4 linked regions of the Homo sapiens genome follow. The protein of the gene in region 2 interacts with the protein of the main gene of each other region in a pairwise test. Each region holds a gene or a part of one and is shown on either strand. Other genes may lie near its edges. The genes, in order: CTCF, ZMYM6, BEND2 and POU2F1.

Region 1 (7,000 bases), on a different chromosome or scaffold from region 2:
AGAACAGACAAAAGCCGCAGGGACGAAGTTGGGGTCGTGATAGCGCTTGAAGTGCATGTCGAGAAGCTGCTTCTGGCGGAAGGTCTTATCGCAGTGGCTGCAGGCGTAAGGCTTCTCCCCGGTGTGGGTGCGCTTGTGCATGATCATGTGCCTCTCCTGAAACGGCATAGGGGGAAAGGCCTCAGAGCCTGCTCATGGGGCTACTGCCCCAGCTGCCACCTGCATGCATGTGGCCAACAGGTATTTCTCACCCAAGCTAGGTCTAGACTCCACACGGCTTGTTGAGATGATAAAGCTATATATTTAGAGACAGGGTCTTGCTCTGTTGCAAAGTCTGGAGAGCAGTGGTGTGATCATGGCTTACTGCAGCTTCAAAATGGGACCATAGGTATGAGCCACCATGCCTGGCTAATTTTTTTTGTTTTTTTTTTGAGACGGAGTCTCGCTCTATCGCCCAGGATGGAGTGCAGTGGCGCGATCTTGGCTCGCTGCAACCTCCACCTCCCGGATTCAAGCAATTCTCCTGCCTCAGCCTCTTGAGTAGCTGCGATTACAGGTGCCTGCCACCACACCCAGCTGACTTTTTTTTTTTTTTTTTTTTTTGAGATGGAGTCTCACTCTGTCGCCCAGGCTGGAGTGCAGTGGCGCAATCTCGGCTCACTGGGTTCATGCCATTCACCTGCCTCAGCCTCCGGAGTAGCTGGGACTACAGGCACCCACCACCACGCCCAGCTGATTTTTTGTACAGACGGGGTTTCACTGTGTTAGCTAGGATGGTCTTGATCTCCTGACCTTGTGATCCACCTGCCTCGGCCTCCCAAAGTGCTGGGATTACAGGCGTGAGCCACCGCGCCCGGCCGACCTTCGTGTTTTTTTGTTTTTTTTTTTTAGTAGAGATGGGATTTCACCAGGTTGGCCAGGCTGGTCTTGAACTCCCAACCTCAAATGATCTGCCTGCCTTGGCTTCCCAAAGTGCTGGGATTACAGGTGTGAGTCACCGTGCCTGGCCCCAGCTAATTTTTTCTTTTTCTTTTGGAGACAGAGTCTCGCTCTGCCACCCAGGCTGGAGCGCAGTGGCGCAATCGCGGCTCAATGCAACCTCCGCCCCAGGTTCAAGCGATTCTCCTGCCTCAGCTTCCAGAGTAGCTGGGATTACAGGCGTCTATCACCATGCCCGGCTAATTTTTGTATTTTTAGTAGAGGCGGGGTTTCACCGTGTTGGCCAGGCTGCTCTCAAGCTCCTGACCTCAAGTGATCCGCCCACCTCAGCCTCCCAAAGTGCTGGGATTACAGGCGCTCGAGCCACCGCGCCCGGCCCTAATTTTTTCTTTTTGTAGAGATGGGGTCTCTCTCTGTTGCCTATCTCGGCCTCCCAAAGTGCTAGGATTACAGGTGTGAGCCACTGCACCCGGCTTGATAAAGGTATTTTTAGTGTGGTGCACAACTGCTTCCATAATTGTAGCACAGATAGAGCTGCTTATTCCTGCTGAGCTCCTTCTTTGGCTCCCTCCCAACAGTCATGTCCCCGCATGAGATTCTTCCCCTCTCTCAAGTCCTGGACTTACTTTCCACAGTTTTCAGAAAGATGTCTGCTTAAGGAAGAGGTAAGCTGTGACTGAATAAAACATCATCTGGACACCGGGATGACACAATTGACAAGGAGCATGACCTTTGATTTTGGTGACATTCCTCATAATCCACAGTTTGAAAATACTATCTTTAAAAACAGCCACTGTACTAGATATGTAAATGCCCTCTGATAACACCAGACACCGAGAAAGCACCAACAACTTTCAATGAAGGTTCCTACCTGTCTACAAGCGTAATCACACTGGTCACACTTAAAGCGCTTCTCATTCTTGTGTGACTTCTGATGCTGGATGAGGGCATAGCGCTCATGAAACACAGCATCACAGTAACGGCATTTCTTGCCTTGCTCAATATAGGAATGCTGCTTTCGCAAGTGGACACCTGAAAGCACAGTAAAAAGCCCAGGGTAATGTGAAAACACAAACAAGCATTTTAACAAGTTACTAATACATTTCTCGATTCTTTTTTTTTTTTTTTTTTTTTGAGACGGAGTCTTGCTCTGTCACCCAGGCTGGAGTGCAGTGGCGCAATCTCAGCTCACTGCAAGCTCCACTTCCCAGGTTCATGCCATTCTCCCGCCTCAGCCTCCTGAGTAGCTGGGACTACAGGCGCCCGCCACCATGCCCGGCTAATTTTTTTATTTTTTATTTTTGTATTTTTAGTAGAGACAGGGTTTCATCATGTTAGCCAGGATGGTCTCAATCTCCTGACCTCGTGATCTGCCCGCCTCGGCCTCCCAAAATGCTGGAATTATAGGTGTGAGCCACTGCGCCCAGCCCATTTCTCCTGATTCTTAAGTATTACTCTGGGTGCTATACAGAAAATGAATGAAAAGGCAGAGTAACAGGTGCAGGGAGAACAATTAAGATTGTTCAAACAGGATAGGTGGGAGAAGATGGTGGCTGGGACAAGGGTGATGACAATGGGTGTGGATGGAAGGGGAAGAACTGATGAGAGATGGAAGCAGTTGAATCAACAGGATTTAGTGACTGTAGAGAGTGAAGAATAAAGTAGGTATCAGGCCTGGAAAACCAGGTAGCTGTTGGGGTCATTTATTGAGACAAGAATAGTGGAAGAGGGCTTAAGACCAAGTTGTATGTGTTATTTTCAGGGTCGGGGGGTGGGGGGGCATAGGGGACAGAGAAGTTTTAGACCTTCAGTTTTAGACATGCTGAATTTGAAATGCCAGAGATATAAAAGCAGGGGTGGGATGGCAAGGGATACACAGTTATATAAGGCTAACTCAAAAGAAAGATCTGGAGTAGGAATATAAATGTACAAGTTGTTAGGATTTGAAAGCAGCTATGCTTATCACTGTACCACCAATGCCACAAAGAGTTGTTAGAATTTGAGCCCATGGGAGCTGATAAGATCACCAAGGCAAAAAGTAGAATTAAAATAAAAAGAATGGGTCATGCTTTGAGAAGTCTAAGAGTTGGCAGGCACAGTGGCTCACGCCTGTAATCCTAGCACTTTGGGAGGCCATGGCAGGTGGATCACCTGAGGTGACGAGTTCAAGACCAGCCTGGCCAACATGGCAAAACTCTGTCTCTACTAAAAAGTACAAAAATTAGCTGGGCGTGGTGGTGTATGCCTGTAAACCTGTAATCCCAGCTACTCGGGAGGCTGAGGCAAGAAAATGGCTTGAACCTGGGGGGCAGAGGTTGCAGTGAGCCAAGATTGTGCTACTGCACTGTACTCTAGCCTGGGCGACAAAGACTCCATCTCAAAAAGAATCCCAGCACTTTAGGAGGCAAAGGTGGGTGGATCACCTGAGGTCAGGAGTTTGAGACCTGGCCTGGCCAACATATAGTGAAACCCGTCTCTACTGAAAAATACAAAAATTAGCTAGGCATGGTGGCGTACACCTGTGGTCCCAGCTACTCGGGAAAATGAGGAAGGAGAATCATTTAAACCAGGGAAGTGGTGGTTGCAGTGAGCCGAGATCGCGCCACTCTACTCCAGCCTGGGTGACAGAGTGAAACTCCGTCTCTCACACAAAGCACACAAGCACACATACACACAAAGAAGTCTCAGAGTTGGGCCAGGTGTGGTGGCTCACACCTGTAATCCTAGCATATTGGGAGGCTGAGGTGGGTGGATTGCTTGAGTCCAGGAGTACGAGACCAGCCTGGGCAACATAGTGAAACCCTGTCTCTACCAAAAGCTAAAAAAAAAAATTAGCTGGTCATCGTGGCATGTGCCTGTGGTCCTAGCTACCAGGGAGGCTGAGGTGGGAGGATTCCTTGAGCCTGGTCGATGCTGCAGTGAGCCAAGACTGAGCCACCGAACTCCAGCCTGGGCAACAGAGCAAGACAGTCTCCAGTAAAAAACAAAAACAAAAACAAAAACCTTGGAGTTAAGGCCAGTGAGAGAAAAAAAGGTTAAAATAAGAGAAAGTTTAAAGAAGTAAGAGGAAGAAGAAAACCAACAGGATTTAGTGTCACAGAGGCCAAGGGAAGAAAGTGTTTCAAAGGAAGAGGGTACTGTCAACGATGAAGAACACTGCTAACAGATCAAGTCATCTCTTAGGAAGAAGAGTGGAAAGGAGTCTTCACTACATTCAGAGAGTGGGGTCATTCATGACCTTAAGCAACAGTCATTATACCAGAGTGATGGGGAATAAGCCAGACAAGAGGGAAAGATGAGGGGGAGAAGACTGTGAGGGATGTTAACTCTTCATAAAGGCTGGCTGGGAAGGAGAGAAGAGTTAAACCTAGAGGGTGAAGACATACATATATATAAAAATACATATATATATGAATACATATATATATACACACATATATACACACACACACATATATATACACACACATACACACACACACACACACACACACACACACACACACACACACACATATATAATTTTTTTTTTTTTTTTTGAGACAGTGTCTCACTCTCTTGCCCAGGCTGGAGTGCCGTGGCGCGATCTCCGCTCACTGCAACCTCCCCCTCCCGGATTGAAGCAATTCTCCTGCCTCAGCCTCCCAAGTACCTGGGACTACAGGCATGTGCCACCACACCCGGCTAATTTTTGTATTTTTAGTAGAGATGGGGTTTCACTGTGTTAGCCAGGATGGTCTTCATCTCCTGACCTTGTGATCCGCCCATCTCAGCCTCCCAAAGTGCTGGGATTAGAGGCGTGAGCCACCGTGCCCGGCTATATTTTTATTTATTTTAAGAGACGGGGTCTTGCTATATCACACAGGTTGGTCTAGAACTCCTGGCCCATCCTCCTGAATAGCTGAAACTACAGGTGTGAGCCACTGTGTCTGGCTAAGATTCTTTTTTTTTTTTGAGATGGGGTCTCTCTGTCACCCAAGCTGGAGTGCAGTGGCACGATCTCGGCTCGTTGCAACCTCTACCTCTTAAGCTCAAGTGATCCTCCCACCACAGCCTCCTGAGTAGCTGGAACCAAGGGTGCACCTCACCACAACCGTTTTGTATTTTTGGTAGAGATGGAGTTTTGCCATGTTGCCCAGGCTGCTCCGGAACTCCTAAGCTCAAATGATCCACCCACCTTGGCCTCCCAAAGTGCTGGGATTACAGGCGTGAGCCACTGCGCCTGGCCCTTTGTCTTTATTTTTTAAGTAGGAAGAGAAGTCATTTACTGAGACCAAGAGGGGAGAGAAAAAAGAAGGAAAATTAGAGGTTATAAGAAAATAGGAGTAGGGGATCTGGTGTAGCAGCTCTCGCCTGTAATCCCAACACTTTGGGAGGCCAATGAGGGCAGATCACTTGAGGTCAGGAGTTCGAGAGCAGCCTGGCCAACATGGTGAAACCCTGTCTCTACTAAAAATACAAAAATTAGCCATGGGCGGGCACCTGTAGTCCCAGCCACTTGGGAGGCTGAGGCAGGAGAAGAGCTTGAACCCAGGAGGCGGAGGTTGCAGTGAACAGAGATCAGGCCACTGCACTCTGGCCTGGGTGACAAGTGCAAAACTTTGTCACAAAAAAAAGCAAGTGAGGGCTGGGCGCGGTGGCTCATGTCTGTAATCCCAGCACTTTGGGAGGCCGAGGTAGGCAGATCACCTGAGGTCAGGAGTTCAAGACCAGCCTGGCCAACATGGTGAAACCCCATCTCTACTAAAAAATACAAAAAAAAAAAAAAAAAAAAATTTAGCCGGGCATGGTGGTATGCGCCTATAATCTCAGCTACTCAGGAGGCTGAGGCAGGAGAATCACTTGAACCTGGGAGGCACAGGTGGCAGTGAGCTGAGTTCATGCCATCATACTCCAGCCTGGGTGACGAGAGGAAAACTCCATCTCAAAAAAAAAAAAAAAAAAAGTAAGAGTAGGTTGCCCAACTCTATATAAGCACCAAACACTGTGGAATGAATTCGCTCACTCATAAAGAACTGGAGCACACCTGACAAGAACAAACAGCTGGAACAGCTAGGAGCAGTGAGGGCCCAGCTACATTTGGGATCATGAATTTATGTATTTACGGTACTACAAGTTGTATCAACTGAGGTGATATCCCACTAAACTTAAAGAGAGCTAATTATTGGGAGTAGATATGAGGTAAGGGAGAGGATGGCTCTCACTTTTTACTCGTTACCTTTTTTTTTTTTGAGACAGAGTCGCGCTCTGTCACCCAGGCTGGAGTGCGGTGGCGTGATCTCTGCTCACTGCAAGCTCCACCTCCCAGGTTCACGCCATTCTCCTGCCTCAGCCTCCCGAGTAGCTGGGACTACAGGCGCCCACCACCATGCCCAGTTAATTTTTTGTATTTTTAGTAGAGACAGGGTTTCACCATGTTAGCCAGAATGGTCTCGATCGCCTGACCTCGTGATCCACCCGCGTTGGCCTCCCAAAGTGCTGGGATTACAGGTGTGAGCTGCCGCGCCCGGCCTACACTAAATATTATTAATAAACTCCGGCTGCATGTAAACTCTAGTTTAACTATGCACAGAAATACAGTTACCACTAAACCAATAAAACAGTCCCATTACCTAGAGAAAGTACAGACGTTCTCAAAAAAATACAATAGAATGACCTGAGTTTGAATCACACTATGTTACTTTCCTATTTGGGGAAGGAAGGCTACTAATTAAAGGTGTACTCTGTCTCCTCCCATCACAGCTCCCATTAATTTATAGATGAGTTTTACTCAGGACAGAATCTTGTGGCCTGACTACAGTAAGAAAAGGAAGAAATAGAAAAAAAAAAAAAAAAAAAGCAGCTAAGCAATGGCTTTTACTAAACTAAGTGACAGGCCATTCCTATACATAAAATGTTATGAGAGTCAGAAGGTGAAGTTATTTTTGATCCCCATATTTCGAAATATAAATCCTTCAAAATATTTTTTTCACTTCTCACTAGTTAATCTACTTACCCAAATCACTTTTTCGGGCTATGACTGTGTCACAGTGGGGACAGTGAAATTTGGCCACATTTTCTG
Region 2 (7,583 bases):
TCACGCCTGTAATCCTAGCACTTTGGGAGGCTGAGGTGGGTGGATCACCTGAGGTCAGGAGTTTGAAACCAGCCTAGCCAACATGGTGAAACCCCGTCTCTACTAAAAATACAAAAAATTAGCCAGGCGTGGTGGCAGGCGCCTATAATCCCAGCTACTGGGGAGGCTGAGGCAGGAGAATCACTTGAACCCGGGATGTGAAAGTTGCAGTGAGCCACCAAGATTACAACATTGCAGCAAAACTCCATCTCAAAACAAAAACAAAAAACCCTATAATGGCTATCTACTGCTCTTAGGATAAAAACCAAAATTTATAACAAGGTCTGCTACGTCCTACATAATCCAGCCTTAAACTATATATACAGCCTTATCATAGAGAAGCAGAATAGCACAAGTTCTGGAGTCTGACCACCTGGATTTGAATCCAGTCTTTGTCATTTACTACTAACTGTGATCTGTGGTAAACTATTTGGCTTTTTTGAGCTTTGGTTTCCTCATCTGTAAAATGGGGATAATAATATGGTGGTAAGAATGGTGCCTGACACACTCTTAAGCATATATAAATATTAAGTTAATAATGTCACATATGATTATGATATAATATATACTACATACTGATATACTAATGCCAGCTATTTTTATTGTTGTTGTTTTAATCATTATCATCATCACCATTTTCATACCTTTTCTGTTCCAGGCTCACTGTTCCTGCAGGTCTTAAAAAGAACCATGCATCTTTCCAACTCAGGGCTTTCCTATTCACAGTTCCCTCTGTCTGTAATACTCTTCTCCATACCCTTTGCCTAATCAATTCATTCTTCATAATTCAGCTTACACATCCTTCCCTTAGAGAGGCCTTCCCTAGCCATCCCCAGGCAGACCACAACCAAAACTAGGTCAGATTCCCCATTTTAGGCTTTTCTTCCAGAGTACTTGTCATAGTTTGTAATTATATATATTACTTGACCAATACTTTTGTAATCTCTGCCTCCTCTACTAACATATAAGCTCTACAAGGGAAGGGACTAAGCTGACTTTGCTCAATCCTGGATCCCCAGAGACTAGCACAGACCACAAATTCTTAACAGAATAAAGGAAAGTACTACCAGATACAAGAGAATTTTTTTTAAGTGACAAGTATGGAAAAATGGTAAATATATTACTTTCCTTCCACACACAAAAAAATCATGTAGTTATAGCTTTCATTCAAAGAGCAAAAAACCAGCCAGGAATGGTGGCTCATGCCTGTAATCCCAGAACTTTGGGAGGCCAAGGTGGGTGGATTGCTTGAGCTCAGGAGTTTGAGACCAGCCTGGGAAACATGGCCAAACCCCGTCTCTACCAAAAATACAAAAAAATAGTTGAGCATGTTGGTGTGTGCCCTGTGGTCCCAGCTACACAGGAGGCTGAGGTGGGAAGATCACTTGAGCCTGGGAGGTGGAGGCTGCAGTGAGCTAAGGAGATCGCACCACTGCACTACACCCTCAGCGACAGCGAGAGCCTGTCTCAGTTTGGGTTATTTTAAACTTACAAACCAGAAGCCGTTTAACTAAAATTTTTCAGTTGACCAGATGGAAAAGAAGGAATTTTTTTAAATTTTTAAATGAAGATGAAATGCTTACTTGAGCATTGTCTGGTTCTTCTTTAATTTTGTCCAGAAGCTCCTGCTGTGGTACCACTGCTTTGCCACATTCACCATCCAAAGGTTCTTTCATTCTAATTTTTTACCTCAAAGAGTGTCTCAGGCTCAAACGAATAGATTTCTTCTTGGTAATGGATAGTTGGACACCTAAAATACATACTCAGGCTTATTCTTTTTTCTTCAGGCTTATCTATATGAAAGAAAAACTTTGTGTTGAGTGCATGAGGCTTCACGGCTCGGCATTTGAAAAACAACTCTTCTGGGGCCACAACTAACTTTTTTCTTTCTTCCTGCTTTCTGTTCCTTCAGTAGCTACATAAGAAAACAGTTTTGGGGCAACAGCTCCCACTTCTCTAATATCTTTAAAGACACACAACACACTCTGGTTTTTTCCTATGTTGAAGGTTATTGAAGGGAATTAGACCAGCAGACCAAGACGTGGGAGGAAGTAATAAACTCTGAGAAGAACGGACTCAAGAAATAGTTTCTGACCCCATAAGAATCAGTACTTAGAGGCCCACGTCGGCTTTTATTTCTCAAAGAGGGGCACAACAACCTCCCGGCCCTGACCTATAACTCAACCTTCACTGGAAGCCTCCCTAAGGGCCCCATTTCTCGGCCTAACGCTAGATGTGAGCTCAAGATGCCATCCATCGCAGGCGAACAACAGGAACGCCCTTACTGAAAGTGAGTCACCTGCCTCTTTCAAGGTCTCCGTGTGAGGGGTGGGGGGCATCAAGCCCCTCAGAGCCCCGCTTCACAATCGCCTTCCTGTAGAAAAGAAACTCAATTGGCCATTCAGTAAATTCCCTTCCCCTAAAAGTCAAAGAACTAAACGGGACGAATTAAACCTAAAACAAAAAGCTCTTCAAAGTTGTCTTTATCCGAATAGTCCGGGATGGAAACGGACAACTGGTTGAAAAGCCTGTTCCAAAGAAGAAATGAGAACTTTTGCGCACTCGCCACAAAATATCTACGGGCGCTCATCCCTCCTCTGAGAACCGCACGCTTTCCGAAATTCTCCTTCCCACCAAGAATTCCCACTCCCATCATTGAGGACTAACGAGGCAATGTGGTCTCCGACTGAGAGCGGTGGACTAGCCAGTGAATGTCAACGCGTCCCTAAGGCGATATCCGCAGCCGCCCCAGCCGCGTAGCCCACCTGGCACCGCCCCCGCCGCAACGCCTCGTCACGTGGTGTGGCCTCCGCCCCGCCGTCCCGCCCACTACCACTGCGGCCGCACCCACCTTCTGTCGCCTCCCTGCTACCGGAGGAGCACTGGAATAGGAACCAAGTCCTCTGCATCTAGACAGGGATTATTTTCTCTTCTGGAATTCCGCCTGATCCATCCCAACGCAACGACCGGCCAACCACGCCTGCGCAGCCTTGGTCTCCGCCCTCTTTTCCCGTCAGGCTCCGGACCTGAGCTGAGTAGAACTTCCCAGCATTCCTCTTTCCTCAATTATGGTTCACTTCTTAAAGAGACCGAGGCTCAATAGTGAAAAGGTGGAGATGGCGTTAGAAGGCGCTGTAAGTGCTCTATAGCATTCTTTTTTTTTTTTTTTTTTTTTTTTTTTTTTTTTTTTTTTTTTGGAGACAGAGTATCACTGTGTTGCCCAGGCTGGGGTGCAGTGGCACAATCTCGGCTAACTGCAACCTCCGCCTCCTGGGTTGAAGCGATTCTCCTGCCTCAGCCTCCCGAGTAGCTGGGCTTACAGGCACGTGCCACCACACCTAGCTAATCTGTAGCATCCTTTAGTGCCCATTTCCTGAAAGGTGGCCTACTGAGAGAGCATGATATTAAATAATACTTGGCTTGCTGAGCACTTCACATGCACCATCCCACTTAATCCTCACCATTTAACCCTAAGAGGTATAATTTTTTAATCTCTTGAGATATAAATGAAAAAACTTGCTCAAAATTGAGATTTGGTTTTTTTAATTCAACATTGTTTCACAGATACGTGTATGATTTGTGACTGTTCATTCATTTTGACTGCTGTATAGTATTCTATTTTATGAATATGATACAATTTTAATCATCTACTACTGATGGACATTTGAGTTGTTTCCAATTTGTGGCTATTAGGAATAATGCTTCTGTGAACATTCTTGTCATTGGTGATGTTAAAAGACAAAATTACAACAAATTTAATTTAAATATCTCAATTAGCTTTATTTGTGATTCTAGAATCTGGCAGCACTTCATTCCATAAAATAGAACAAGTGTTCCAATGAGCTGAGCAGAAGAGGTAGGTTTTATAGACAGAGAAGGGCTGGAGAAAGCAGAAGTAAAGAACAAAAAACAGATTGGTTCATTTCAAAGTAACTTTCCAAAAAATAAATAAATAAGTTAATTTCCTTGTAAAGCAGAACCAAGAAACAAAACAATAGAGAAATAACTGATTGGTTAACATCAGGTAACTTCAGTTTATCTTTTTTTGGTAACGATTAAAGCAGAAGAAATTTCATTATTATGCTAATTGAAACTGGCACTCAGGGGAAATTAGACTCTTATTATCTCTTTTTCCTGACTTTTCAGAACTTCAAATAACAACGTAGTTTCCATTTGATGACATGGAACCTCAGTGTGAGTGACTCCATTTTGATTTTTAGTCTGGTTCATTGAGACCTACTGCAGGAGCTTAGCCCGAAACAATGGCCTACAAGTTTTATTTAACAGTGATACATATGCACACATTTCTGTTGGGTTCATACCTAAAAGTGAAATTGCTTGTTATGTATATGTAAAATTTAGGTAGATAATCTCAGGCAATTTTAGAAAATGGTGGTTTCAGTTTATACTCCCTTCAGCCATGTATGAGAGTTTCAGTTTCCCAACATCCTTGCCAATAATTACTGCTGCATATCTTTTTAATTATAACCATTCTGATGGGGGCATAGTGGTATCTCACTGTGGTTTTAATTTGCATTTCCCAGATTATTAATGAGGATGAGCCCATTTTCTTGTTCCTTGGGTATCTGGATATCCCCCATAAGTGCCTGTTCAAGTCTCTTGCTCATTTTTGTATTGGATTGACATTTTCTTATGGGCATATATTTTAGATATGAATCCTGCTATGGTTTGAATGTATGTGTCCCTTCAAAATTCATATATTGGAACTTAAACATTAAGGCGATGGTATAAGAAGTGGAGCCTTTGGGAGGGGTTAGGCTATGAGGACTCCATCCTCATGAATGGGATTCATGCCCTTACAAAAGAGGGCATTCATGCCCTTCACAAAGATTCATTCCTTTTGCCCTTTTAACCCCTCACTGTATGATAACAATGTTCCTCCCAGCAAGAGGACAACAACAAAGTTTCATCTTGGAATTAGAGAGTAATTCCAAGACAACAAATCTGCCAGTGCCTTGATCTTGGACTTGCCAACCTCCAGAACTGTGAGAAATAAATTTCTACTATTTATAAATTACACAGTCTGTGGCATTTTCTTTTGGCAATCAGGAATACACTAAGATAAGTCTTTTTTGAATATACACTAGCCCCCCTCATCCACGGTTTTGCTTTCTGAAGTCGTAGTTACCCACACTCAACCACGGTCTGAAAATATTAAATGGAAAATTCCAGTAACAAATAATTCATAAGTTTTAAACAACTTTCATTAAAGTCTATTGTTATAATTGTTCTATTGTTAGTTGTTAGTCTCTTTCTGTGCCTGATTTATAAATTAAACTTTATCATAGGTATGTATGTATAGGAAAAAACATAGCATATATAGGGTTTGATACTACTGGAGGTTTCAGGCATCTGTGGAACATCTTCGAACATATCCTCATGGATAAGGGAGGGACTACTGTATATATTGCAAATATCTTCTCCCACTCGGTAGCTTGCCTTTTCACTCTGTTATTGGTGTCTTTTGATGAACTTAAAAGACCTTTGTGGCCGGGTACAGTGGCTCATGCCTATAATAGCAGCACTTTGGGAGGCTGAGGCGGGCGGAACTCTTGAGGCCAGGGGTTTGAGACCAGCCTGGCCAACATGAGGAAACCCTGTCTCTACTAAAAATACAAAAATTAGCTGGGCATGGTGGGCACCTGTAATCCTAGCTACTAGGGAGGCTGAGGCAGGGGAATCACTTGAACCCCAGAGGCAGGGGTTGCAGTGAGCCAAGATCGCACCACTGCACTGCAGCCTGGGTGGCAGAGCAAGACTCTGCCTCAGGAAAAAAAAAAAAAATTAGCCGGGTATGGTGGTGTGCACTTATAGTCCCAGCTGCTCGGGAGGCTGAAGCAGGAGAATCACGTGAACCAGGAAGCGAAGGTTGCAATGAGCTGAGGTCATGCCACTGCACTCCAGCCTGGGTGACAGAGCAAGACTCCATCCAAAAAACAAACAAACAACAACAACAAAAAAACCCTTTGTGCTTAGTGCTTATTGTATTCTCTTAAGAAATATTTTCCTACCAAATGAAGAAAATTTCTAGAAGTGTTATTAGTCTTTCACATTTAGTTTTATAATCCATCTGTGGTTGGGTTATGTGTATAGTGTAAGGTAAGTCAGATTTCAACCTTTCCATGTGAATTTTGCATGGATTAAGCACTATTTTTTAAAAAGACTGTCCTTTTCCCCACTGTTCTGCATTGACACCTTTGTCATGTATCAGTTGTCTATATATGTGTGGGTTTATTTCAGGACTATGAAGGCTGTTCCTTTTGTTTCTCCTTGTGGAAATACCATACTGTCTTAATTTCTGTAATAGCTTTATAATAAATCTTAGTATATGATAGAAAAAGTCCTCCCTCCTATTATGTCCTTCAAGATTATCTTGGCTTTCCTTGGTCCTTTGCATCTTCATGTAAATTTTTGAATCAGCTTGTCAGTTGTGACAAAACTTTCCTTACAAATTTTAGAATCCATTGGGATTTTGTTTAGTATTATACTGAAGTGGTATGCCTGTTTTGGAGAATTGGTATTTGTTATTCATTATGTTGAATTGTGTCACCTAAAAAGATATGTTGAAGTCCTAACCCTTAGAATGGGACCTTATTTAGTCATATAGGATTGTTGCAGATGTAATTAGTTAAGATGAGGCCACACTGAAGGAAGGTGGGCGCTTCATCCATTATGACTGGTGTCCTTAAGAGAGGAGAAGATATGAAGACATACACATTGGAGGAGAACCCCATGCGATGATGGAAACAGAGATTGAAGTACTGCAGTTGCAAGCCAAGGAATGCTAAGGATTGTTGATAACACCAAAAGCTAAGAGAGGCAAGGAAAGATTCTCCCATATAGGTTTCAGAGAAAGCATGACCCTACCGATCTTTAATTTTAGACTTCTAGCCCCAAGAATGGTGATATAAATTCTGTTTGTTTTTTTTAAACCTAGTTTGTGGTACTTTATTAAAGCAGCCTTAGGAAACTAATAACAGCATTCTGTGGGGTTGAATCTTTCAATCCATAAAAATGATATATTCCTCCATTTATTTTGGTGTCTGTAATTTATCTTGATGCTTTATAGTTTTTAAGTGTAGATATTGCACACCTCTTTGTTAGATTTATTCTAGGCATTTAATATTTCATGTCATTTTAAATGTAAATTTTTATTTTCTAATTGTTTTCAGTGTAAATATAGAAATACAATTATTTTTGTATGTTGGTCTTGAAGCTAGCACCCTTGCTGAATTATTAATTAAACTAATTAATTCTAATAGTCTAGCCATTTTTCTTACTTTCTGTTTCCAGCTATGTAGAGAATAATGACCATTTTATTTCTTTCCAATTATATAACTTATTTCTTTTTCTTGCCTATTGCAGTGGCTAAAACCTGTAGTAATATGTTGAATGGAAATGGTGATATTGGGCATCTATATCTTCCTGTTATGTTGCTTTCAACATAAAATTATTGAATATTATATTTACTTTAAGATGTTTGTAGTTACCTGTGGAAGGTTAAATATGGCCATAAAGTTGTT
Region 3 (7,036 bases), on a different chromosome or scaffold from region 2:
AAGGCAGGAAACCCATGCCTGGGCCAGCCCTGCTGTAACATCTCTTGAGTCAGCAGCATGTCATGAACTGCAGGAAGCAGACCTCAGTGAGAGTTTATCATATCCCAGAATTGTCTCCTCAAGTTCATTACAGCAGTATGTCGCACAAGGTGGCTCATTTCCTTGTTTCGGTATGCCATGGAACTTTATCAGTGGAGGTGCTGAAAGTACCAATGCTGTCATCTCATTTGCCAATGCTACTACAGCAGTACCTATGGCAGTTCTGTCACGAAGAGAATCCAGTCTGGCAAATAACCCTGGTGTGGTGAATTACTCTGCTCTACCAGAAAATGAAAATGTGGGCCCAGGTAGAGCCTTGTCATCTTTCTGCTTCCATCCCAATTTGGGTGAGTTTGAAATGACACATATTACAGATAGCATTCTTCAATCTAGATTTTAAAACACCCTTCATGCAAATTAGTGTTAGTTATTTTTTAAATTAAAAGTTTTATCTTGAAGCCATTATAGATTCATATGTAGTTGTAAGAAATAATACAGAGAGATACCCTTTCCCCAATTTTCCCCAGTGGTAACATCTCATAAGACTGTAGTTTGTATTCATTTGTGTGTCTGACTTTCGGCTTTTTTTTTTAAAACAATTTTATCAGATGAGAAAGTTTGTATGTTCCTACCATAGTCAAGATACAGAACCGTTCTATCACCAGAAAGTTTGCTTGTCTTGCCTTTCTATAACCAAACCCATCCTCCTTTTCCTTCCCCCACTTACCTATTCCTAACCTTTGGCAAGTGTGATCTCTTCTCCATCTCTATAATTTTGTCACTTCAATATTGTTATATAATTGGATGCATATAGTATGTAACCTTTTGGTACTGGCTTTTTTTTACTCAACATAATCCCCTGGAGACTCAACCAAGTTGTGTGTTTCAGTAGTTCCTTTATTGCCAAGTACTATTCCATGGTATAGGTGTGCCATGGTTTAACCATTCATCTATTGAAGGAAATTATTTTTCCAGTTTTTGACTATTAGTAGTAAGGCTGCTATGAAAATTCATATACAAGTTTTTGTGTAAATGGAAGTTTTCATTTCTCTGACATGATTACCCAAGAGTGCAACTGCTGGTTATATATTAATTGCATGTTTAGGTTTTTTTAAAAAAACAAATCTTTATTGAGATATTAATGTCTTGGTCTGTTTGTGTTACTATAACAAAATACCATAGACTGGGTGATTGAAAAAGAACAGAAATGTAGTTTCTCACAGCTCCAGAGGCTGGGAAGTTCAAAAGCAAGGTGCCAGCCGGTTTGTGTGGTGAGGGCTGCATCCTCTGCAAGAGAGGAGCACTGTGTCCTCACATGGCAGAAGGTAGAAGGACAAGATTTCAAAATGCCGTGTGAAGCCTCTTTTATAAGGGCCTCCATCCCATTCATGAGGGAGGAGCCCTCATAGCTTAATCATCTTAAAGGTCCCATTTCTTAATACGATCACATTGGCAACACCTGAATTTTGGAAAGGATACCTTCAAACCATAGTAATTGATAAGTAAAAAACTGCACATATTTATTATACCCAATGTAATGAGTTTGGACATATGCATGTTTAGTTTTATGAGAAACTGCCTAACTATTTTCCAGGGGCGCTGTATCATCTGACATTCTTGCCAGCTATATATGGGTGATCTACTTTCTCTAAATGCATATTTCTGCTCTTTCTTTTGTTCTTTCTTCCTGATGCTCCAAGATTCCTTCTTTCATCATCTTCTTTTTTTGATTGAGGAGTTTTCTTTAACCTTTCTTTAAGGGTAAGTCTGCTGGGGACAAATTCTTTTTGTTTTCCTTTGTGTGTGAATGTCTGTTTCTCTTTCTTTCTTGAAGGATAATTTTGCTTTGTATAGAATTTGTGGGTGAAGTTCTTGTATTACAGCTCTTGAAAACTTTTTATTTACAGAAATGCCAGAAAGACCAGCAAACAGCAGTAAAAACAGCACTGAGACAGCGAATTATCCAACTTTAATGGGAAATTACAATGGCCAAAATACTGCCTCTTTATCTGTCTTCATCCCTCCCTATTTTGGTGAGTTTGAAATGATACATAATGCTGGGCGTGGTGGCTCACACTTGTAATCCCAGCACTTTGGGAGGGTGAGGCGGGTGCATCACCTGACATCAGAAGTTTGAGACCAGCCTGACCAACATGGTGAAAACCCGTCTCTACTAAAAATACAAAAAATTAGCCGGGTGTGGTGGCGGGCACCTGTAATCCCAGCTACTCCGGAGGCCGAGGCAGGAGAATCACTTGAACCCAGAGGCAGAGGTTGCAGTGAGCTGGGATCATGCCACTTAACTCCAGCCTGGGCAACAAGAGCGAAACTCCATCTCAAAATAAATAAATACATAAATACATAAAAAAGAAATGATACATATTGCAAATAGCATTATTTAACCTTGATCCACCAGTTTTTTTTTTTTTGTTTTTTTTTTTTTTTTTTTTTGAGATGGAGTTTTGCTCTTGTTGCCCAGGCTGGAGTACAATGGTGCGATCTCGGCTCACTGCAACCTCCGCCTCCTGGGTTCAAGTGATTCTCCTACCTCAGCCTCCCAAGTAGCTGGGATTATAGGCATGCACCACCACGCCTGGCTAATTTTTTTGTATTTTTAGTAGAGACGAGGTTTCTCCATGTTGGTCAGGCTGGTCTCCAACTCTCAACCTCGGGTGATCTGTCCGCCTCTGCCTCCCAAAGTGCTGGGATTATAGGCGTGAGCCACTGCGCCCAGCCTGATTCACCAGTATTTTTAATGTCAGCTAGTGTGACTCTTTTCAAACTAAACTTTTCGGTTTGAGATAATTTTAGATTCACACACAGTTGTAAGAAATAATGCAGAGAACTGTTTATGCTTTAGCCATTTCCCCCAAAGGATGACATCTTTAAAACTATAGTAAAATATCACATCCAAGGTAGTGGCATTGATACACTCCACAGATCTTACTGAGATGTTCCCAGGTTTACTTGTAATTAATTTGTGTGTGTGTATTTAGTTCTTTGCAGTTTTATCACAAGTAGTTTTAATGTCTACCTCCAGTGAAGACATAGAACGTTTCTATCACTGCAATGATGCCTCATCTTGCCCTTTGATAATCACATTCACTTTCCTCATGTCATCCTTTCCTTCCAACCTGCCCCATCCCTAACACCTGGTAACTACTGATCTGTTCTCTGTTTATAATTTTGTCACTTCAAGAATGTTATATTAAGGGAATGTTACAGTATGTAATTTTGGGGTATTGGTGTTTTTCACTCAGTATAGTTATCTGAAAACTCACCCAGCTTGTTGCATGTATCAAGAGTTCCCTCCTTTCTTTTCTTCTTTTTTTTTTTTTTTTTTTTGAGACAGAGTCTTACTCTGTTGCCCAGGCTGGAATGCAGTGGCGCGATCTTGGCTTACTGCAACTTCTGCCTCCCGGGTTCAAGCAATTCTCATGCCTCAGCCTCCTGAATAGCTAGGATTACAAGTGTGTGCCACCACGCCCAGCTAATTTTTGTATTTTTGGTAGAGACAGGGTTTCACCATGTTGGCCAGGCTGGTCTCAAACTCCTGACCTCAGGTGGCCTGCCTGCCACGGCCTCCCAAAGTGCTGAGACTACAGGCATGAGCCACCACACCCAGCCTACCCTCCTTTTTATTTTTGATTTATATTTCATAGTATGGCTATGCCACAGTTTGTTTAGCCATTCACCCATTGAAAAGGCATCAAATTGTTTTTTTTTCCAGTTTTTGGATATTAGGAGTGAAGCCACTATGAACAGTCATGAACAGGTTTTTCTGTAAATATAAGTTTTCATTTCTCTGTCATGAATGCCAAGAGTGTAATTGCTGAGCCTTATGGTACTAGCATGTTTAGTTTTATAAGAAACTGCCAAATAGTTTTCCAGAGAGTCTGTATTATCTTCCATTTCCACCAGCAATGCATGAGTGATCCAGTTTCTCCACATTCATATTTCTGTTATTTCTATTGTTCTTCCTTCTGGATGCTCTATATTTTCTTTTTTCATCCATTCCTTTCTGTTTGAATACTTTTCTTCAGCCTTTCTTTCAGGTTTCTTTAGTGTTCCTGCATGTGAAAATGTCTTTATTTTCCTTATGTTCTTCAAGGAACATAGTTTTGCTGGGCATAGAATTTGTGGCTGAGAGTTTATTTTCCATCAATATCCTGAATGCAAGTCAGTGGTAGCTCTTTAAAAACAAAAAAAAAAACTAGGCTTTTTATTTTGAGATAATTTTGAATTCACATGTAATTGTAAGAAATTGTACAGAGATCCCATTTATACTTTACCCATTTTCCTCAATGATAACATCTTAAAGAACTATATCCTGCATCCAGGATATTGGCATTGATTAAATCCACATCTCTGTGTGTGTATTTAGTTCTATGAAATTTAATCATGAGTCAGTTTACATGTCCACTATTAGTTACAATACAGAACATTTCCATCATCACTACAAAGATCCTTCATATTGTTCTTTTAAAACCATAGCCACCTCCCCCAATCTCCCTTGCCTCTCATCTTGCCCTGTCTTAACTACTGATAGTCAGCAATCTCACTTTGTTTGCCAGAATTTCATTATTTGAGTATCATTACTTAAATGCAACTAAATGCTGTGTAACCTTTTTATTTATTTATTATTATTATACTTTAAGTTTTAGGGTACATGTGCACAATGTGCAGGTTAGTTACATATGTATACATGTGCCATGCTGGTGTGCTGCACCCATTAACTCGTCATTTAGCATTAGGTATATCTCCTGATGCTATCCCTCCCCCCTCCCCCCACCCCACAACAGTCCCCAGAGTGTGATGTTCCCCTTCCTGTGTCCATGTGTTCTCATTGTTCAATTCCCATCTATGAGTGAGAACATCCGGCGTTTGGTTTTTTGTCCTTGTGATAGTTTACTGAGAATGATGATTTCCAATTTCATCCATGTCCCTACAAAGGACATGAACTCATCATTTTTTATGGCTGCATAGTATTCCATGGTGTATATGTGCCACATTTTCTTAATCCAGTCTATCATTGTTGGACATTTGGGTTGGTTCCAAGTCTTTGCTATTGTGAATAGTGCCACGATAAACATAAGTGTGCATGTGTCTTTATAGCAGCATGATTTATAGTCCTTTGGGTATATACCCAGTAATGGGATGGCTGGGTCAAATGGTATTTCTAGTTCTAAATCCCTGAGGAATCGCCACCCTGACTTCCACAAGGGTTGAACTAGTTTCCAGTCCCACCACCAGTGTAAAAGTGTTTATTTCTCCACATCCTCTCCAGCACCTGTTGTTTCCTGACTTTTTAATGATTGCCATTCTAACTGGTGTGAGATGGTATCTCATTGTGGTTTTGATTTGCATTTCTCTGATGGCCAGTGATGATGAGCATTTTTTCATGTTGTCTGTTGGCTGCATAAATGTCTTCTTTTGAGAAGTGTCTGTTCATATCCTTTGCCTACTTTTTGATGGGGTTGTTTGTTTTTTTCTTGTAAATTTGTTTGAGTTCATTGTAGATTCTGGATATTAGCCCTTTGTCAGATGAGTAGGTTGCGAAAATTTTCTCCCATTCTGTAGGTTGCCTGTTCACTCTGATGGTAGTTTCTTTTGCTGTGCAGAAGCTCTTTAGTTTGATTAGATCCCATTTGTCAATTTTGTCTTTTGTTGCCATTGCTTTTGGTGTTTTAGACATGAAGTCCTTGCCCATGCCTATGTCCTGAATGGTAATGCCTAGGTTTTCTTCTAGGGTTTTTATGGTTTTAGGTCTAACGTTTAAGTCTTTACGCCATCTTGAATTAATTTTTGTATAAGGTGTAAGGAAGGGATCCAGTTTCAGCTTTCTACATATGGCTAGCCAGTTTTCCCAGCACCATTTGTTAAATAGGGAATCCTTTCCCCATTTCTTGTTTTTGTCAGGGGTTTCTGCTTTTGCTTCTATCTCATGAGAGTTATTCACTATCACAAGAATAGCATGGGAAAGACTGGCCCCCATGATTCAGTTACCTCCCCCTAGGTCCCTCCCACAACATGCGGGAATTCTGGGAGATACAATTCAAGTTGAGATTTGGGTGGGGACACAGCCAAACCATATCATTACTCAAGGAGAATTTCACTATGTATAAATTCACGGTTGAGAGTTCTTAAGCACTTGAAAAATGTTCTTTCTGTACGTATGCCGAGAATTGCAGAAACCAGGCTGGAAAACAACCCTCAGACAATGAATTACCCAATTTCTTCGGGAAATGGCAGCGGCCCATGTTCTTCCTCTTCATCTGCCGGCCTCACACCTAATTTTGGTGAATTTCAGATGCTGTATTACAAGTGACACTATTGAATCCGGATCGATCAACATCCTTAATGCAAGCTAGTAGTAGCTCGTTTTTGAAATTAAACTTTTATTTTTATTTTTTTGAGGCGGAGTCTCACTCTGTCACCCAGGCTGGAGTGCAGTGGTGTGGTCTTGGCTCACTGCAACCTCTGCCTCCTGGGTTCAAGAGATTCTCCTGCCTCAGCCTCCCAAGTAGCTGGAACTATAGGGCATGCCACCATGCCTGGCTAATTTTTGTATTTTTAGTAGGGACGGGGTTTCACCATGTTGGCCAGGCTGGTCTCAAACGCCTGACCTTAGGTGATCTACCCTCCTTGGCCTCCCAAAGTGCTGGGATTATAGGCGTGAGCCACCGTGCCCAGCCATTTTTATTTTGAAATAATTTTAGATTCACATGTATTTGTAAGAAATAATAGAAATGATCCCCTTTATGCTTTACCCTTTTCTACCAGCAATATCATCTTACAAAACTATAGTAAATTAACACAACCAGGATATTGACATTGATACAATACACAGATATAACTGAGATAGCCCCAGTTTTACTTATAATAATCTGTGGGTGTATCTGTATTTCTTTCTGTGCAAGTTTTCTTCCACGAATAGGTTTGATTCTCACCACCACAGTCAAGACATAGAACATTTCCATCACCACCAGGCTGCCTC
Region 4 (7,036 bases), about 130 Mb from region 2:
TGTTGAAAAAGTTCCATGGGTCACCCCATGGTGACAAAGATTGAGAACCACTAAGTCCATCAACCAAGCATTCATTATTTGTTAAATGTCTAGGCCTACTCTGTCCCTACCAGTATGTTCCTGCACTCAAGGCTCTTAGGACAAGATTTACTTACATAATCAATTAGAGAAGAAAATAGGACTGTGTATAATGAAGTGCTGAATTGGGTAACTGAACACAAATTAAGTGCTAATTTCAGAGAAAGTATGACAGGAGCTCAGATTTGACAGATGGCTATTTGTGGAGATAAAGAAATGGACAGACAGGTCCCTTAAGATAAATAAGGACAAAAGTTTTCAAGTCATGACCAGCAGAAGTCCTAAGGACCCTGTGAAAGTGCCTCAAAAGCTACTGTGGAAAGGAGGAGGAAAATGCTTTTCTTGCTCCAATATCCAATTTTAATCAGAACAGCTCCACTTTTGCCTTTAAAAAAGAACACCAAAGGCTTTTAAAAGTTTGAAATCCCTTATTTTACAAATGCAATTAAAAAAAAAATCCATGGTGAAGTAACTTGTCCTAAAGTTACTAAGCTAATTAGTGACAGAGAAGCCAGGTCTCTGAACCCCCCAGTACCTTTTTTCACTCTACCATACCATACACCATGGCCTTCCAATGGAGGAAAAAGTGTGAGTAAAGGTTCTCACACAACGTCCCAAACACACTGGCTTGACCAAAACACTGGGTACACATTCAGGTCATGTGTCTCAAACTGGGATTGGTGTTGCAAGGATGGTAATGGGAGAAAGGCTCAGGTAAGTCTCAGGATAAATTATAGCCATCCTCCCAAGATAGATCTTCAAATTTTAGGGAAATTTCTTTAAAAATTAAAATCTGATAATATGCTGTATTTGTGGTAGAAATGGACAATAAGGGAACTTCCTTGATGGAATTGTTGAGTCATGCTATTTAAGGAAGTAGTAAAGATAATAATGCATAGGCAAGGGTAGGGGCTAGATAACAGAATGCCCTGAAATCAAGGTAAGTTGTATTTGCTACAATGCAACACCTCCACTGTATAAAGTTTTCAGAAGAGTATTAGGAGTGTCCATTCCTCCTAAGATGCTGGCTGCACCAAAAAATGAACAACCTACAGTCAGGTGCCCCACAGAATCCATCGGCTGCTAAAGCTTCTGCTTCTCTACAGCAGCACAAGTAATAAAATTCCTGATTTTACTCCTGTGCTCATGTAAGAAAAACTATTACAGAGTTACTTTAAAAATGCTTCTGCTATCAATTTGATACTCCCCACAGCATCCCTCTAACACTGGTATTATCACCATCGTATTGTTGAAGGAAATAACCTTAGAAGACAGTGCCAAAGCCAAAATGAGATATCTAGAATTTACAACGTTCAGATTCAATACTCAGTCCACACGCACAGTGGCATGAGCATAAATTTCAACCCTAGTATTAATGTTTATCAAACATTTAATTCACTAAAAAATTTTCAATTTTCACAAGGAATCTACAACCCAATAAGACCCACCCAAACATGTCTCAAATGACATGTCAAAGTGAATTCACTGACTTACTCCCCAAATGGCTCCTTTTCCCAACATCCCTACATCTGCTTATGGTAATGCTCTTTTCTGGATAACCTAAACTCAAAACCTTGATAATCTCTTTGCATCTAATTAGCTGCTAAACTTTAAGGGCTCTGATCATGGCACTGTCCATAACAAAAAAAAATTAAAAAAAAAAAATTCAGTGACTTCCTACTGCCTAGCAAATAAAATCCAAACTCTTACACCAACACAAAGGATTCAGAGCTCTCCACAATAGAGCCCCAAAGTGCCTTAATACACAGCCTAAATAACAACTAAGCTGGAAGTCTTGCTATTACCCACACTTAATGCTTATAAAAACACAGGACCTTGAGAAAGTCACTTAATCTAAGTTTTATTTTACTCGACTATAAAATGGGTATAGTAACGCTTGCCTGAAAGGACTAACTGAGGTAATGAAAATGAGAATGTGGCTATAAATTTTAAAGTACTATAAAAATACAGACATTATCACTGTGCCATGGTTATGGTAATATTATTTATACCTGCCTTGCTCCAGAAAGGATGTAAGGTGGCCCACATAAAACAAGATAAAAAGAGTTTAAAGATGGAAGCAATACAAGAAATACAAAACAAATGCATGGACAAAAAATTGATCTACTAATCAGGCTAAGAAATGCAAACGTAATTGCCTATGCATGTGCTTCTCAGGTTAATAATCTGACCTAAATTTGACCAAATCAAACTGTAGTTTGATTTGAAAAGGAAACTAAGTCAATTAGACAATTCAGTGTCCATAAGACTAAAAACAAATAGTTTCTACTGTAAAGGCCAGGTAAGAATTTCTCCCAAACGTCCTTATTCCATGTAATGTAATTGGACAATATCCTCAACACCTTTATCACGACTTATCTATTTCATAAATTAGACTGGAAGTCTCTTGAGGTCAAGTAATTTTTAAATTATGTTTGTATCTCTAGTAGCACCTACAGTAATTAGTTAATAAACCAAATACCTCTATACACTGGTTTCTATGGATCTAATCTCTCCCTTCCTATTTCAAACCATCCTGCACACCACATTACTCCTAACACACCATTTTTATCACATCAGTCCCTATTTCAAAATCCTCCAACAGCTTTCCTGCAGATAGAACAAATGCTTCCTCATTCTTTACCTATACATCACAATGTTGAACACAATCTCCCCTTCAATGGCCTTCTCTGTATTCCCATTCCTCTAAATTCTTTTTGCCCTTTAAAGCTCGGTTTAAAAGTCTCGCCTTCTACATAAAGCCTTCTCTGACTGACAGCAATGGGGCAGGAGGAGAGACTGGGAGGTGGGAGAAAGTTAGAAGTCTTGTGTTCTTATCTGTTACTGAATAGTTAAGTGACTGTGAGCAAGTCACTAAACCATTGTGAAAATATTTCCTCATCTGTGAAGCAAAACCTTTAGCAAAGATTATATCTAAATTACCTTCCAGCTATAATATATTCTAGGATGCTCTGGCTCTTTCAAACTTGGACACACTCTGATCTATTCTCCAATCTTCATTATCTGTTACATATTTTAATATGTAATTATATACACTGTTTTTCAATTTTTCCTGCTTAAGTAAACATACCAACTCCTCCGCAGCAGTCATATTTCCTTGTTATTCCCAAAGACTACAGGCATAGGACCAGGTACATAGCAGATACCTTTTATAGACTAGGATGGTAACTACTTTAAAACATTAATTATAATATTGCTTGCTGCAGTATGAATCAGCCAAAAAAGGCTGTATTTTTCATTAAGCAGACCACTAAAATAAGTGTACTAAAACAAGAAAACACCTAAGTCACTTTTCCATATAAAAATATATTCCCTTTAAGGTATCAGTGCAACTCCATTAAGGTAATCATATGTTTAAGCACAAATGAGTCGTTTAACACACAGCATATTGTTCATTTTCCAGCCATTCCTGTTTATATCTTCTATTGCAAAGAGAAAGTTCAACAGAGGGGGGGAAACCTGCCATAATAATTATTATTATTGATTTAATTTCATATACCATTTCTATATTCCAACATAAAAAGCATAAAGTTACAAAGAATTATGAAATAAATAATGTGATAAACTGCACTTGCTATGACTTTCAATATTGAAGACTTAGTAAAGCTACTACAAACACTTAGCTTTGTGGAATGTGAACATTGGCTGTTAAAAAAAAGTTAGTATAATGTATCCTCTCCGGATAAATGTCCAGGAGTTCCAGCAGTTTAAAAGAAATCTGGGCCAGGTGTGGTAGCTCATGCCTGTAGTCCCAGCACTTGGGGAGGCCACAGTAGGACTGCTTAAGCCCAGGAGTTTTAGACTAGCCTAGGCAACATAGCAAGACCCCATCTCTTAAAAAAAATTAAAAATAAGAGAAAATAAATGAATAAAAGATAATCTGATAAATCTAGAGGTTTGCTGATTCTTCTTTTGCTCAATTACTAGTCCTGTCAGCAAATGTAGGCAACACTGAAATCTTGAGTGCTTGCTTAATTGGAAATAAATAAATAAATAAATAAAACCCAAAAACAAAAGAGCTCTATTAGTCACTGAGTATACAAAGATACCAATGCTCAAAAAATTCACACCCCATAGTAAAAACACACAGAACCCCATAACCACATGCACTGTATGCAAGGAGCATCTTCAAATCAGAACTTCTGAAACTCAAGACAATTCTCATATTCCAAATTCTAAACATACTGTAAACGGATCAAGTAAGTCAGGCAATAGCTCTACTCAGGCTATTTTTGTTTCCATTGTTATTACTGCTGAAACAGTTTATAAGAGCTCATCACCTGTTTAGAACACAGAAATACTTCGGTACAAAACAAACCAATTTATTCCTAAGAAGAATTAAAATCTACAGTTATTCAATTCTCTTTACTTATGAAATGTCAATAATGCACAAAAATGTCCAGCGAAAGATGCATAAGGAAACTGCTATTCTCTGTGAACCTTAATTATTATCCCTTTCAACCACTCAAAAGGATATTTACATCCTTTAAGCAACACAGTAAGAAGTAAGCAAAATGGTGACTCAAAGTTACCCCAAAAAAAGGAAAAGGAAAAAATTCATGCAGAAAGGGTACAGAAATTCAAAGCAGATATGTCACTGAATCAAATCAACAACTTTCAACTCTAACGCCCAAGAAATAGTAAGTACATTTGCTCAGGCATTTAGCATTTAAGGAGGGATCAGAAACAAGAACATGGATAACCAAAAGGGGGCATGTTTTGTTTGTGACTTGGTCTGTTCCCTAAACGCAAATTACCTGAATAGTTCTAAATTCAAATGCAATCACTTTCATTAGGAAAAACACATTCCTGCTTAAAATCAGGCTTCATAGCAAGTCTTTACTAATCACAAAAACTGTGTAATTAACACAATTATATAAAGGCAAATTAATGAGTCACACAACATTATTTTTAATGGTGCTTGAAAGACTAATATGCAAAGATTACAACTATGGGGTTTCAAAATTAAAAAACAAAACAAAAATAACCGATAACAACAAGGCAATCACTACTACATAATATTACAGTCTTCCAAGTACAAAGGAAACATTCATGAAAATGAGTGACCAACTTAAAAAACACAAATAAATTCAAGATGAAGCAATACAGATTCAAGAAGCAGGTCAAATATTTCAATTTTTAATAGAAAATACTTAAAGATAACATTCAAATTTCCACTTCTGTTATTTCAGAACCACCTGCCTAAGATATTCAAGGGTCTATTAAACATCTTTGGTGGCTTGAGAAGAGCAACGTAACATTTTGAGCCCTGAACTTATTGCAAAATCCACTAACCAGATGAATGGCAGATTGACAATTACTTCAAACTAGGCAGCAATGAAACATATTTTATTTACACTGCTTTATACTACCTATTGATGTAGAGAATAGTAAATTTAAAATATGGCAGAACACTACACCTGAATTCATTTGAACCTGAATAATAGCTACGGTTTGTTTTTTCCTTGTCTACTGGGATTTTTGACAATGACAAAATGAAAGGAATTACAAACTAATTTGAGGGAAGAGGTTAAAAATTGCTTTTACGGTAATGGTTTGGAAGCAGAACAGTCCTTTAGAAATCAAAAACAGTTGGTCAGCTGTCACATGAATTTTCAAGACCTTGATTCAAAAGTATCATTGTAATTAATAGGTGGGAGAGTTAAGAAAGTGACAACGGGCTGGGCATGGTGGCTCACGCCTGTAATCCAGCACTTTGGAAAGCCGAGGCGGGTGGATCCCTTGAGGTCAGGAGTTCGAGACCAGCCTGGCCAACACGGTGAAACCCCGCCTCTACAAAAAATACAAAAATTAGCCGGGCGTCATGGCGCATGCCTGTAGTCCCAGCTACTAAGGAGGCTGAGGCAGGAGAATCACTGGAACCCACGAGGCAGAGGTTGCAGTGAGCCGAGATCGCACCAACGCACTCCAGCCTGGGAGACAGAGCAAGACTCTGTCTGGAAAAAAAAAAAAAAAAAAAAGAAGACAGTGACAATGGATTTCCTAGAAATACGCAGGAAACTACTTGACAGATGCAAAAGGAGACAGGCAGGTTATAAACTCATGTGGGTTCAAAAGTAACCTAAAATACTCTATCAAAATTGGATCACAAATTCAGGTTAGAAATAAAGCAATTTTATCACATTCTCAGGGAATTTTAATCATCACCTTAAAATAAACTAATAATTAAAAATATGAGAAATGTCTTACAAGAAAATCTATTAATATGTCAAAAATTCTAAGTGCAATCACTGTTGCAATGGAACAATTTTAAAATCACTAATCAAAACAAAATGAACAAACTTGTCCAGACTAAGATAAATCCAAAAAGAATTCTGAATTTTTTTTAAAAAATCTGTTTTAAAAGCACATGCTTTCCTGTGAGTATTCTACCTTATTTTCAACATTATCATTTCCACCTTAAAGAATACACAGCCCTCATTCTCAACTCTGCTTTATTCACTGAAATGGATTCTAAGGCAAATGGTCTCTCCATTAGCCTAAGCCATGCTCTGATTAAGAAACACAGTTTCTTATAAAAGTCTGGGGGATCACAACAAACATTTATATGGGTCACTTCTATGACTATCTATCTAAAACCCAAATACTCCATTTGAGAATTTTGAGGAAATGAATTTTTACAATAGCATTAAAAGTGAACCAAAATATAAGGCCAGTTAACAACATCCATCCTTTTCTGTATTACAAAAACTGTAACAGCGAAATTTTGCTTGTAAAATCCAATGTACATTTTATCATTTTGTATAAAATATCTACGGCCTCAGTAGTGATTAAATTGCAGCTATAAAGGAAATTGACCCGAAATAAATGGTTTCCCTATGAGAAGGCTTCACTGCTACACTTCACCTCAGGACAATAAATCAAATTAACTGCACCTTGTCCTCTGTCCAATGACATCATCAGTTTGACCACATCT

The links.
Region 1: the proteins of ZMYM6 (region 2) and CTCF interact in binary tests that used the Homo sapiens proteins (3 or more experiments, as listed by UniProt).
Region 3: the proteins of ZMYM6 (region 2) and BEND2 interact in binary tests that used the Homo sapiens proteins (3 or more experiments, as listed by UniProt).
Region 4: the proteins of ZMYM6 (region 2) and POU2F1 interact in binary tests that used the Homo sapiens proteins (3 or more experiments, as listed by UniProt).

Annotation. Positions count from the first base shown.
Region 1 is NC_000016.10:67,621,526-67,628,525, reverse strand, and holds part of CTCF (transcriptional repressor CTCF), read right to left. Parts: coding exon 6,935-7,000; intron 1,972-6,934; coding exon 1,811-1,971; intron 157-1,810; coding exon 1-156.
Region 2 is NC_000001.11:35,028,925-35,036,507, forward strand, and holds the start of ZMYM6 (zinc finger MYM-type protein 6), read right to left. Parts: upstream 3,022-7,583; 5' UTR 2,891-3,021; intron 1,790-2,890; 5' UTR 1,716-1,789; coding exon 1,623-1,715; intron 1-1,622. UniProt on the Homo sapiens protein: Plays a role in the regulation of cell morphology and cytoskeletal organization.
Region 3 is NC_000023.11:18,196,851-18,203,886, reverse strand, and holds part of BEND2 (BEN domain-containing protein 2), read left to right. Parts: coding exon 1-386; intron 387-1,946; coding exon 1,947-2,072; intron 2,073-7,036.
Region 4 is NC_000001.11:167,223,870-167,230,905, reverse strand, and holds part of POU2F1 (POU domain, class 2, transcription factor 1), read right to left. Parts: intron 1-7,036. UniProt on the Homo sapiens protein: Transcription factor that binds to the octamer motif (5'-ATTTGCAT-3') and activates the promoters of the genes for some small nuclear RNAs (snRNA) and of genes such as those for histone H2B and immunoglobulins.